Linked DNA regions of Homo sapiens. The protein of the gene in region 1 purifies or fractionates together with the protein of each later gene. This does not show direct contact. Each region holds a gene or a part of one and is shown in the gene's direction. Other genes may lie near its edges.

Region 1 (3,657 bases):
TTTATTTGTATGGTCTGCAAATAACTAGTGAAATGATTAGTGCTAACACTGTAGTTGCTATCAACTTCCCAGTTAATTCAGGAATGTTATATTAGTGTAATGACATTCAGATACCTACAGATTATAATTATGAGCATTAGTATCATTAATCTAATTATTGAGCTTTTCTGTTAATAAAAGCACTGCAGTTTTTGTATTCATTATGGTAATTGCTTTGACTGTTTTTCACCTCTGAGCCAAAATTTGAGGCTGGCACATTGAGGGATAGTAGTGGATTATTGATTGGTCAGTAGACCTGTCTTGGCTCTGGTGTTAACAGAGATACCATTGGTGTTGTTACACTGAGGTTTGGTTAGCCTCAGCATCTGCCTTTCTAAAATTGGTGATACGATTTCTCTGAGACTTCCAGTTCCAAAAATCTCTTTTCTATTATGTCTGTTGAGGGTCTTTTTATAACAATCGTCAAACAGTTTTTTAATTAACATTATTTGCATTTTATAACTAATGTATATAAATCTTTGGCAAGTTAAACATAACTAATATTATTTGCTTAGCAAAGCTTTAAATAATATATAAAGTCATGATACTCTAAACTGTTGACTCTGAAGTAATAAGAATTTGCCTTACTAATTGGAAAATTACTGTGCTGTATTTTAGGTATTTTATATGCATTACCTGAGTCTGAACGAAAACTACAGAGTTCTATTCAGGATTTGTGTGTTACCTGGTGGGAGAAAGGCCTGCCTGCCAAGGAAGACACAGGAAAGACAGCCTTTGTCATGTTACTAAGGAGGAGTCTGGAGACTAAGACAGTATGCTCACTTTTTATTTTTTTAAAGACAGGGTCTCTCTCTATTGCCCAGATGGAGTGCAGTGGCATGATCATAGCTCACTGCAGCCTCAAACTCCTGGGCTCGAGCAATCCTCCTGCCTCAGCCTCTCAAGTAGCTGAGACTTCAGGAGTGCACCACCTAGCTAGGACTTTATTTTTAAACGTCTTCCTAACATTCTAAACCTGCGCTATTCAACGTAGTAGCCACTTGCCACAGAAAGCTGTTTAAATTTAAAGTTAAAAATAATGAAAAATTCAGTTCCTCAGTTGCATTAGTCACATTTTAGTAGCTCTACAGTGAAATGTGGCTAATGTCTACTGCACTAGACAGTTCAGATGTATAAAATCTTCATCATCGAGGAAGTTCTTAAACTTGCTGGATTTTTAATTATTTTCCTTATGTTTTAAAAAAATGTTCTGTAGAGCTATAGGGGGCATTTGCAAATTTTAAAATCTGTTTTTATTTGTCGTTATTTTTTAATCTTTGATGAATCAACTAGAATTACCATTATTTATGATATAAAATATACTTGATTTGAAATATGACTTTACTGTTCATTGAAAAAGGTATCACATTTTTTGTGTCATTCCTAGGGTGCAGACGTATGTCGGCTTTGGCGTATCCATCAAGCTTTATATTGCTTTGATTATGATTTGGAGGAAAGTGGAGAAATTAAAGATATGTTACTTGAGTGCTTCATAAATATTAATTATATCAAGAAAGAAGAGGTAAATAGGTATTTGTTTTTTGATCTGTTTGTGAGCTGCTTCTTAATAGATGTTTCTCCTGTGTTCACATGGTTCCTGTCTGCACCATGCTCGGTGTTGCTTAGCTACCAGGAGCTATTTACTGCACATGATTTTTACTGCATGGCAGTACTAGAGAAGACATTTTACAAGTCCTTGCTTATTTCATCATTAAATTGGATGGTAACAGGTGGCTGTGTGTTACCTAGGGGAACCGTAATTACATTTTAAATTAAGAATGATTAAAAATAAGGTTGAGAAAGCACTTCTCTATGAATGAGATCTGGCCTTCTGCCCTAATTCCATTTTAATTGCCATGTACTCAAAACTGTCATCCCATAATATCCTCCCTTTCTTTTTTCTACCCATCCTGTAAATCCAGAGAGGCTTCTGGCCTGTTGCTGCACTGCCCGTCCTGGGGTCAACTCCCATATGAGGCTACTGAGCACCTGAAATGGGACCCAACTGAACTGAGATTAGCCATAAGTATAAAATACACATGGATTTGAAGATTTAGTGGGAAAGAAATGAACATAAAATAGCTCATTAATAATTTTTGTTCTATACTTAATATAATAGACAATATTTTTATTGTCTGTTATATTAAATATTGCTTTACATAAAATATATTATTAAAATTAATCTTCTTTACTTTTGTTAACATGACTACTAAAGAATTGAGAATTACAGAGAGGCTCGCATAGTTCTTCTGTGTTAGGGGCCTTCTGCAGTTGTTTACTGAGCGTCGACTACATGCTCAGGCAGTGCCAGGGGAGACTAGAACAAGCTTTTGCATTTGGATGCTCATGGCTCAGCAGGCACATCTCTGAGGCAGAAGGAGGAAGTCATCCCTCCTCCCTGAAGGAGGTGGAGAAGGGCTTCAGAGGAAGAGGAGGACCAGCTCTGAGGTACAGAATAAGTTTCCTCCAGGTGTCACAGCTGCTCAGCGGCAGAGACAGAACTGGACCCCGGCGAGCCATCTGCAGTCTGCTAGACAAAGGGCCATGTGATTAGGACTGAGACCTTTGGCTCCCAGGGTCTTTGTTCACTTTATAGGTGGTGCCCTTGGTCAGGCCTTTCAGCCTCAGAGTTTTGTTCTGTAAAATAGGAGCAACAGTTACTGTTTCACAGGATTGTTGTTAGGAACAGATGAGGTAATATGTATCAAACCGCAGCCCAGGCGCTGGTGGATAAGAACCCCTGGGGAGGGCTGCCCTTTGCCATCCTTGCTGTGTCAGCACCATCGTTATTACAAAGATGTTGGACACAGCCTGTGCCCCACACATGTCTCCAGGATTGTTCTGAAATGGGAGAGTGAAGAAATTAATGATGGATTCAAACAATAAACTATTTTATGTTGACTTATACATAAGGAGTTGATGAATCGTACTTGTTAACTTATATATGTGTGCAGATATATAACAGACATAAATGTATGTATGTGTTATAACCTCTACCCTTTTTAAAAAATTGATGTCTCCTTTGAATTTAAGATATCTAAATGTAGTTTCCTAATCAATCATTAATTTGGTCAGGTCAGTTTCCAGTCATTCTGGGTAAACCATAAACATCTTGTACTGTACTAACAGATTACTTCCAGTGAATATTACTGTTTTTTTTTTTAACTTGCCTGTTGTGAGCATGGTTACCCTGCATTTGAATCAAAATGTATTGCATTTCTGTAGGATTCCAGTTCTGTGCAGTGGTGTGCTGGTAAGAGATGAAGGTGCTATTCACTGAGAGAGTTCTAGATAGATGCATCTTATGCACTCTATAGAGTATGAAGATTGTATTCATTCTTCTTAGGTTCAGATACATAATCTAGTAGCATGCATATAAATTATCATCACATGATGTATTTATGACTTGAAGACTGTGTATTTGGAAATTCTAGCTTGACAAACACTTAGCCTTTTAACTATATGAGTCCTCAGTTTTCTCATCTATAAATGAGAAGGTGAAATGAACTGGGATATTCAACTCCATTCCCACCCACCTATGCTAGATTTAAAGCTTTCTTTCATTTGAGACTATGGAACCATCCATGACAGAGCCAGAATGAGATGTTTATGGACCCA
Region 2 (3,657 bases), on another chromosome or scaffold:
ATTTTGTGTCTTAGTGTGACTGTGATTCTTTCTCTCCTTTTGTCTTTCAGCAAACGGGGATTCAGCGTCCGATCCTTTGGAACAGGGACTCACGTGAAGCTTCCAGGACCAGCTCCCGACAAGCCCAATGTTTATGATTTCAAAACCACATATGACCAGATGTACAATGATCTTCTTAGGAAAGACAAAGAACTGTATCCCAGCGGGTTGCCCTTTAAAAACCCCCCGTGTGGTCCTCCCTGGAAGGTGTTACGTGTGGCTCGGGCACAGGAGGCGTGTCACCCTGTGCAGTGCACACACTGGCTCCTCTGTCTTTGCGAGAGCTTGGTTTCTATTCCTGGTGCACGTCGGATCGTCCACGGGTTAGTTCCAGTGCCACCCATGGCAGTAGGCGTGGTGAGGCGCACAGACACGGTGTGGGGTTCACCCTGACGTGGTTCAGCAGAGGGTCGTGACATAGCGTAGACCAGGGATGCTTAGGTGAGGAGGTGGAACCCACAAAATCCCATTGCTTTTCACACTGCAGGGCTGCCCCGTTATTTCCTTTGCAGGTTGGTGTGCGTGCGTGTGTGCGTGCGTGCCTGATACACATGGAGCCGGGCTGCTTCACACATCTGGTGAGGTCGTTAGAAGGTCAGATAAAGAAGAGGGCGGAGCTTGCTAACCAAGCTGTTAGAAGAAATAATGGGAGAGAACATTCCTTCATTTCAGGAGGACACAGAGCAGGCTAGGTCTGCCGCGAAGACTCCTATAGAGAGAAGAGTATTCTTAAACTAGATTCTGATGGACGCAACACCAGTTGCATAATGGTTATGACAATCAGTGCCCGGGTTTTTGACCAGGCATTTCATGGTCACCCCCACGCTAATGGAAAGTTTCTGGATCTTATTTTGTTATAGTGAGTGATTTGTAGTTTTCAGAACGGAGGCCAGGCCAAACGTATTCCAAATGAAAAGAGAATAGGTGTCAAATGCTAAACCTTTTATCTTCGTGTTGGCACTGTTGCCATCCCCGCCCTCTCCCGACATCCCCGCCCTTGACCAGCATCTCTGGCCTTGCCCAGCATTGTCTATGTATTGGCACTCTTGCCATCCCCGCCCTTTCCCAGCAGAGTCTCACTGTGTCACCCCGGCTGGAGTGCAGTGGCGAGATCTTGGCTCACTGCAGACTCACTGCAACATCCACCTCCCGGGTTCCAGTGATTCTCCTGCTTCAGCCTCCTGGGTAGCTGGGATTACAGGCACGCGCCACCACACCTGGCTAATTTTTGTATTTTTAGTAGTCACAGGGTTTCACCATGTTGGCCAGGCTGGTCTTAAACTCCTGACTTCAGGTGATCCACCCTCCTCGTCCTCCCAAAGTGCTGGGATTACAGGCGTGAGCCACCATGCTCAGCCCTACTCTTGTATTTTTTTTTTTTTTTTTTTTTGAGATGGAGTCAGAGTCTCACCCTGTTGCCCAAGGTGGAGTGTAGCGGCTTGATCTCAGCTCACTGCAACCTCCCCCTCCCAAGTTCAAGCGATTCTCTGCCTCAGCCTCCCGAATAGCTGGGATTACAGGCATCCGCTGTCATGCCTGGCTAATTTTTGTATTTTTAGTAGAGACGGGGGTTTCACCATCTTGACCAAACTGGTCTTGAACTCTTGACCTCGTGATCCAGCTGCCTCGGCCTCTCAGAGTGTTGGGATTACAGGCGTGAGCCACCATGCCTGGCCTCTTGGAATATTTAATAAGCTAAAAAATTCTTATACACAGGTAGATTAATTAGGTAGCCAGGAGTGGCCCCTGAAAGTATGTCTGGCAAAACCTAGAACTGCATCCTAGCCATCACTGTACCTTCTGCCCTCCCTGCTGTCTCCTCTGCCAGTTACAGTTAAAAGGTTGTGGGTGAGGACGCTGGGCAGAGTCCCAGGCGTCTGCTGTCAGCTCCCCAGCCCGGCCTGCCTGCCGAGCCATCTGGGCGTCCCACGGTGGAGAGTGTGGTGCTTGTGACGCGGTGGTGCTGGGAGCCATCCTGGTGGCAGATGTGGGCTCTCACTGCAAGTCAGTGTAAGTCCCCAGGGACTGTCAGCAGCACGTCCTGCTGCCCCTCTCTCTGCAGAAGCCCTGGTAACCTGCGTTTGGAAAAATCTCTAAGGATTTCTGAGGAGCTGTCAGGCCATGTCCTTGTCCACCCTGTGTGGGGCACGGCTTCGACATGGCTCTGCTCCCGTCGTGGGCTGAGAAGGAGCAGGTGGGGCTGTGCCTTGGAAAGGAGGCCCTCCCGACATGCCTTTGTGCGAGGTCCCTGTCCATGCTGTCTCCATCCCGGAGCCTTACGGCGATGGGTGGCCACAGAGCCTATTCCAAGAGTCTGGTTTAGGGCTGGGTCTTCCCATCTTCACCTCTGAGTCTTAGGCGATGCGTGACCACGCAGCCCCTTCCAGGAGTCTGGTTTAGGGCTGGGTCTTCCCATCTTCACCTCTGAGTCTTAGGCGGTGCATGACCACGCAGCCCCTTCCCGGAGTCTGGTTTAGGGCTGCGTGCTCAAGAGTCTGGTTTGGGGCTGGGTCTTCCCATCGCCCTGGAGGAGGCTTTTGTCTCATCTCATGATTCACATTAAACTCTGTGCCATGAAGCTTAGCCTGACATCCTGTTTTTGACAATTACTCTTCAGTTAGCACTGTTTATTTTTAAGTTCTTGTATATTCAGTAAGAGAAAGAAAAGCAGAGAGTGACGCACATCCTCACACTCCCTTGATTGGTGTAAGCTCAGCCCCTTCATGTCAGCCCACTGTGACCTCCTGGGTTCCAGACCTGGGAAGTACTTGCCACGTTCTGCAAGGACTGAGTCCAGCTTCAGCAGTCTCATCCGGAAGGACTTGGTATAGGCAGAGGATGAGCCTGTCTCTGGTCATTCTAAAAGAAGGAGCTGAGCCCAGTGTCCCAGAATTCGGAAGCTCCTCCTTTACAGAGGGACTGTAGGGGTTGGTGATCTCCCAGGAAGCATCGGCCCAGAAGAACCCCGCGTGCGTGTGTGTGCTCTTGGTGTGTGGTGGGGGGAAGGAGTGGCAGCAGGGGTGGCGCTGGGACACTGTCAGCCACGGGCTCTGCTTTGGGGACCTCGTGTGGGAAAGGCATTGCCTGTGGTGGCCCCTCAGGAGGCTCTAGGAGGAGCGTGCCTTCATTACCTTATTTCACTCGGGGGGCGTCTTTGCCCCCTAGGTGGGGGCAGAAGGTGCAGAATGGGAAGCCTGCCACTTAGCTAAAGCTCTTGCACATGATGCCCTTGGCCTGGAGAGGAGTGAAGTCCCCAGGCAGTTCCCTGTGGACACTGGCACGATGCCGGGTGGGGCCTCAGGGGTGTTGAGATGTGCAGGTCGGGAGGACCCCGATAACGTTTCCTGGTTAGTGATGGGTGCAGGGGGGCCGCGGGAAGTGACTGTTACAAGTGAGAGCCCGAAAGCAAATCTGCCCCACAGCAGCCGGTGCGTTGGCAGAAGTCATCGCCGTAAACTGCAGTGGAAGCAAGACGGGGTTCAAGATGCGGCCCAAAGATAAGACGCAGCACTTGGTCGAGTGTTCACAGCGTCAAGACAAAGGACGGGCCGGCGCGGTGACTCAGGCCTGTAATCCCAGCACTTTGGGAGGCCGAGGTGGGTGGATCATGAGGTCAGA
Region 3 (2,521 bases), on another chromosome or scaffold:
TCTGTTTTAACCCAAAGAATACTTGAGATACCTGAAGAGGGAATATATAACTTCACACTGAAGGCGAGAGGTTTTGAAGTAGTCCCTCTCTTTTTCCCGCTGCTGTCTTCCTTTCGCTACTGTCTTTTTTCCTCCTTTCCCCTGTCTTGTTCATTTTGTTATTAGGAAGTGAGGAGTCCCAAGGAGCAATACATCGAAGCATGTCTCAGCCAGAGGCTAGCAGCAGCAGCTATGACAGTGAGTGGGAACAAAATTAAGGAGTATTTATAAATATACAGCAATATTCTTAAAAAACAATCCCTTAAATTTTAAAACTGGCAATTTTAGTTTCAGAAAGATCCTGCATTGTTCTAGTGAGATTGACACTCATTAAGTCTAAGGCAGAGTCTCAGCTGCGCATCAGGAAGACTCATCCCTTTCTTGACTGCCTGGACATCATTTGTTACCTGAACTTTGCTTAATGAGCATCAAGCGTTTTTGTTTTGATAGATAAATGCCTTTAAATTCTAGTATAATTATGAATTTTTTTTTAACCTAAGTTTTTAGTTTAAGGTCTTCTACTGATGCTTTTTCCCATGAGAAAATATATCAGTATTTTTGTTATTTTATTAATGACAAAAGAGTATAGTAAAGTCATAAATAATTTAAGGAGAACAATTCAGTTTTTTTGACCTAACTTTTTCAGAAGATAAAGAATAGTCAGATTCACCCTTATTCATATAAACTCAAAATTGCCGTTCTTAAAATGCTGTTTATTTCCCCCATTACAGTTCACTTTTTTCCCCTAAAGTACAATGCGAGTTAAGGTATTTTACTATCAAAATAATCATAAGTGAGAGAAATATTATCTGATGGTAAAATATTATTGCTTCCAGCAAAAAGAAAAAGCCAAGAGTTCATGTAAATGTATATTTTTAAATTTATCAGTTTAAAAGTTACTTGAAGGAAAAGACACATTATTACATTTGTTTTTTTAATTTTTAAGATATATAGTACAATTCAGTGAACACTGTGTTTTAGGGCTTTAAGATTTTGTGTCATAAACGTGTTTCAAGAATGGTTACCTCTAACAGCAGCTTTAGAAATGTCAGTTTCTTCATTAACAATTTTATTTTCAAACACAATTTATGATTTACAGTATGGTAAGAGATTTTTCGCACTGTGTGATCTTTCAGAATGCTGTGCCTAGCAAAATGGGAGCAACTTTCCTTTAATATCTATTTAGACCATTTTAAAAATGTGTATAATTTTCTAGATACACCTAAACTCATTTTGAATAGTTGGGGGTCTATTGTGTAAGAACACATTCTGAAAGCTTTCAAAATGTGTATTGTGTAGGTTTTCTCAAATAAATAGAGGAGGTGATGGGATGGTTTTCAAGAAGAACAGAGGCCTCTAATCCTTTTATTTTTATGCAAGGCATAATTTTTACCAGTTGAGAAAATTTGGTTACTGGCTGCAAGTAATTTTTCCCCTCACAAAATGAGGAGCCTTTAAAAATCATGCATATTTTGGCATTTCAAAATCATGCCAGTATTTCAGAATTGTGCTAAAAATTAGCTAATATAGCCATGATATTTATGGCTGGTGTACTTTCCCCCCTCCTGTTCATAAAATGGAGGCTACTTTTGTTGGTATTATTTTTAAGAACCTTGGATTTTGGACCATTCCTGAGGAATCTTTGGAGAAAGCATGACTAGTCAAAAAGTAGATATTTTTAAGGGAACCCTACAAAGAAATTTCCTACTTTTTTTTTCCTACTGCATTATAAAATCATAGAAAAGCATCCCAAACTTGTATGTTATTTTCCAAATATCAAATTATATACATTAGTCTTCTGATTGGACCCTTTGCCAGTAGTGTATATTATGAAAATGGTTATATATTTAATTAAAGAGATAAGGTAGTTTTTTTTGTAACAATCAGAATTGATTATTAGGGAAAATATTGAATTGATTTATGCAGCAAAGTCAACAAGGTGCGTAGGACTGATTATATAATAAATTCCAGGCAGTAGTAGCCCTTTTAGTTGCAGTGAGAAACTTTGGATTGAAGGAGATGAGCAGCAGTGATATTTAATTTCAGAGTAAAATGGCAAATTAAGACATTAATGAGAATAATGCTATTTGAATGTAACTTTATAGTTGTTAATTTAGTGTTCTTTGTAGTGTGGTTAAAGATTTAAAATGTGTTGAAAGGGAGATATAGTATTGATTATTGACCTTGATTTTGTAATACCCTTTATGCCAGTCTCACTATCGCAGCATTTTCAGTTTTCTGTGCAGAATTAATTTCAAATTTCTTGAAATAGGCCGGGCGCAGTGGCTCATGCTTGTAATGCCAGCAGTTTGGGAGGCTGAGGCGGGTGGATCATTTGAGGTCAGGAGTTCGACACCAGCCTGACCAACATGGTGAAAGTCTAAGTCCTACTAAAATACAAAAATTACCTGGGCGTGGTGACAGGCACCTGTAATCTCAGCTACTCTGGAGGCTGAGGCAGGAGAATCACTTGAACCCAGGA

The links.
Region 2: the proteins of NCAPG2 (region 1) and SSU72 fractionate together in Homo sapiens (co-fractionation; one large-scale study listed by BioGRID). This does not show direct contact.
Region 3: the proteins of NCAPG2 (region 1) and VRK1 purify together in Homo sapiens (affinity purification with mass spectrometry; one large-scale study listed by BioGRID and IntAct). This does not show direct contact.

Annotation. Positions count from the first base shown.
Region 1 is NC_000007.14:158,687,723-158,691,379, reverse strand, and holds part of NCAPG2 (condensin-2 complex subunit G2), read left to right. Parts: intron 1-657; coding exon 658-812; intron 813-1,426; coding exon 1,427-1,561; intron 1,562-3,657. UniProt on the Homo sapiens protein: Regulatory subunit of the condensin-2 complex, a complex which establishes mitotic chromosome architecture and is involved in physical rigidity of the chromatid axis.
Region 2 is NC_000001.11:1,561,310-1,564,966, reverse strand, and holds part of SSU72 (RNA polymerase II subunit A C-terminal domain phosphatase SSU72), read left to right. Parts: intron 1-50; coding exon 51-194; intron 195-3,657. UniProt on the Homo sapiens protein: Protein phosphatase that catalyzes the dephosphorylation of the C-terminal domain of RNA polymerase II. Plays a role in RNA processing and termination. Plays a role in pre-mRNA polyadenylation via its interaction with SYMPK.
Region 3 is NC_000014.9:96,877,337-96,879,857, forward strand, and holds part of VRK1 (serine/threonine-protein kinase VRK1), read left to right. Parts: intron 1-165; coding exon of another isoform or gene 166-237; intron 238-2,521. UniProt on the Homo sapiens protein: Serine/threonine kinase involved in the regulation of key cellular processes including the cell cycle, nuclear condensation, transcription regulation, and DNA damage response.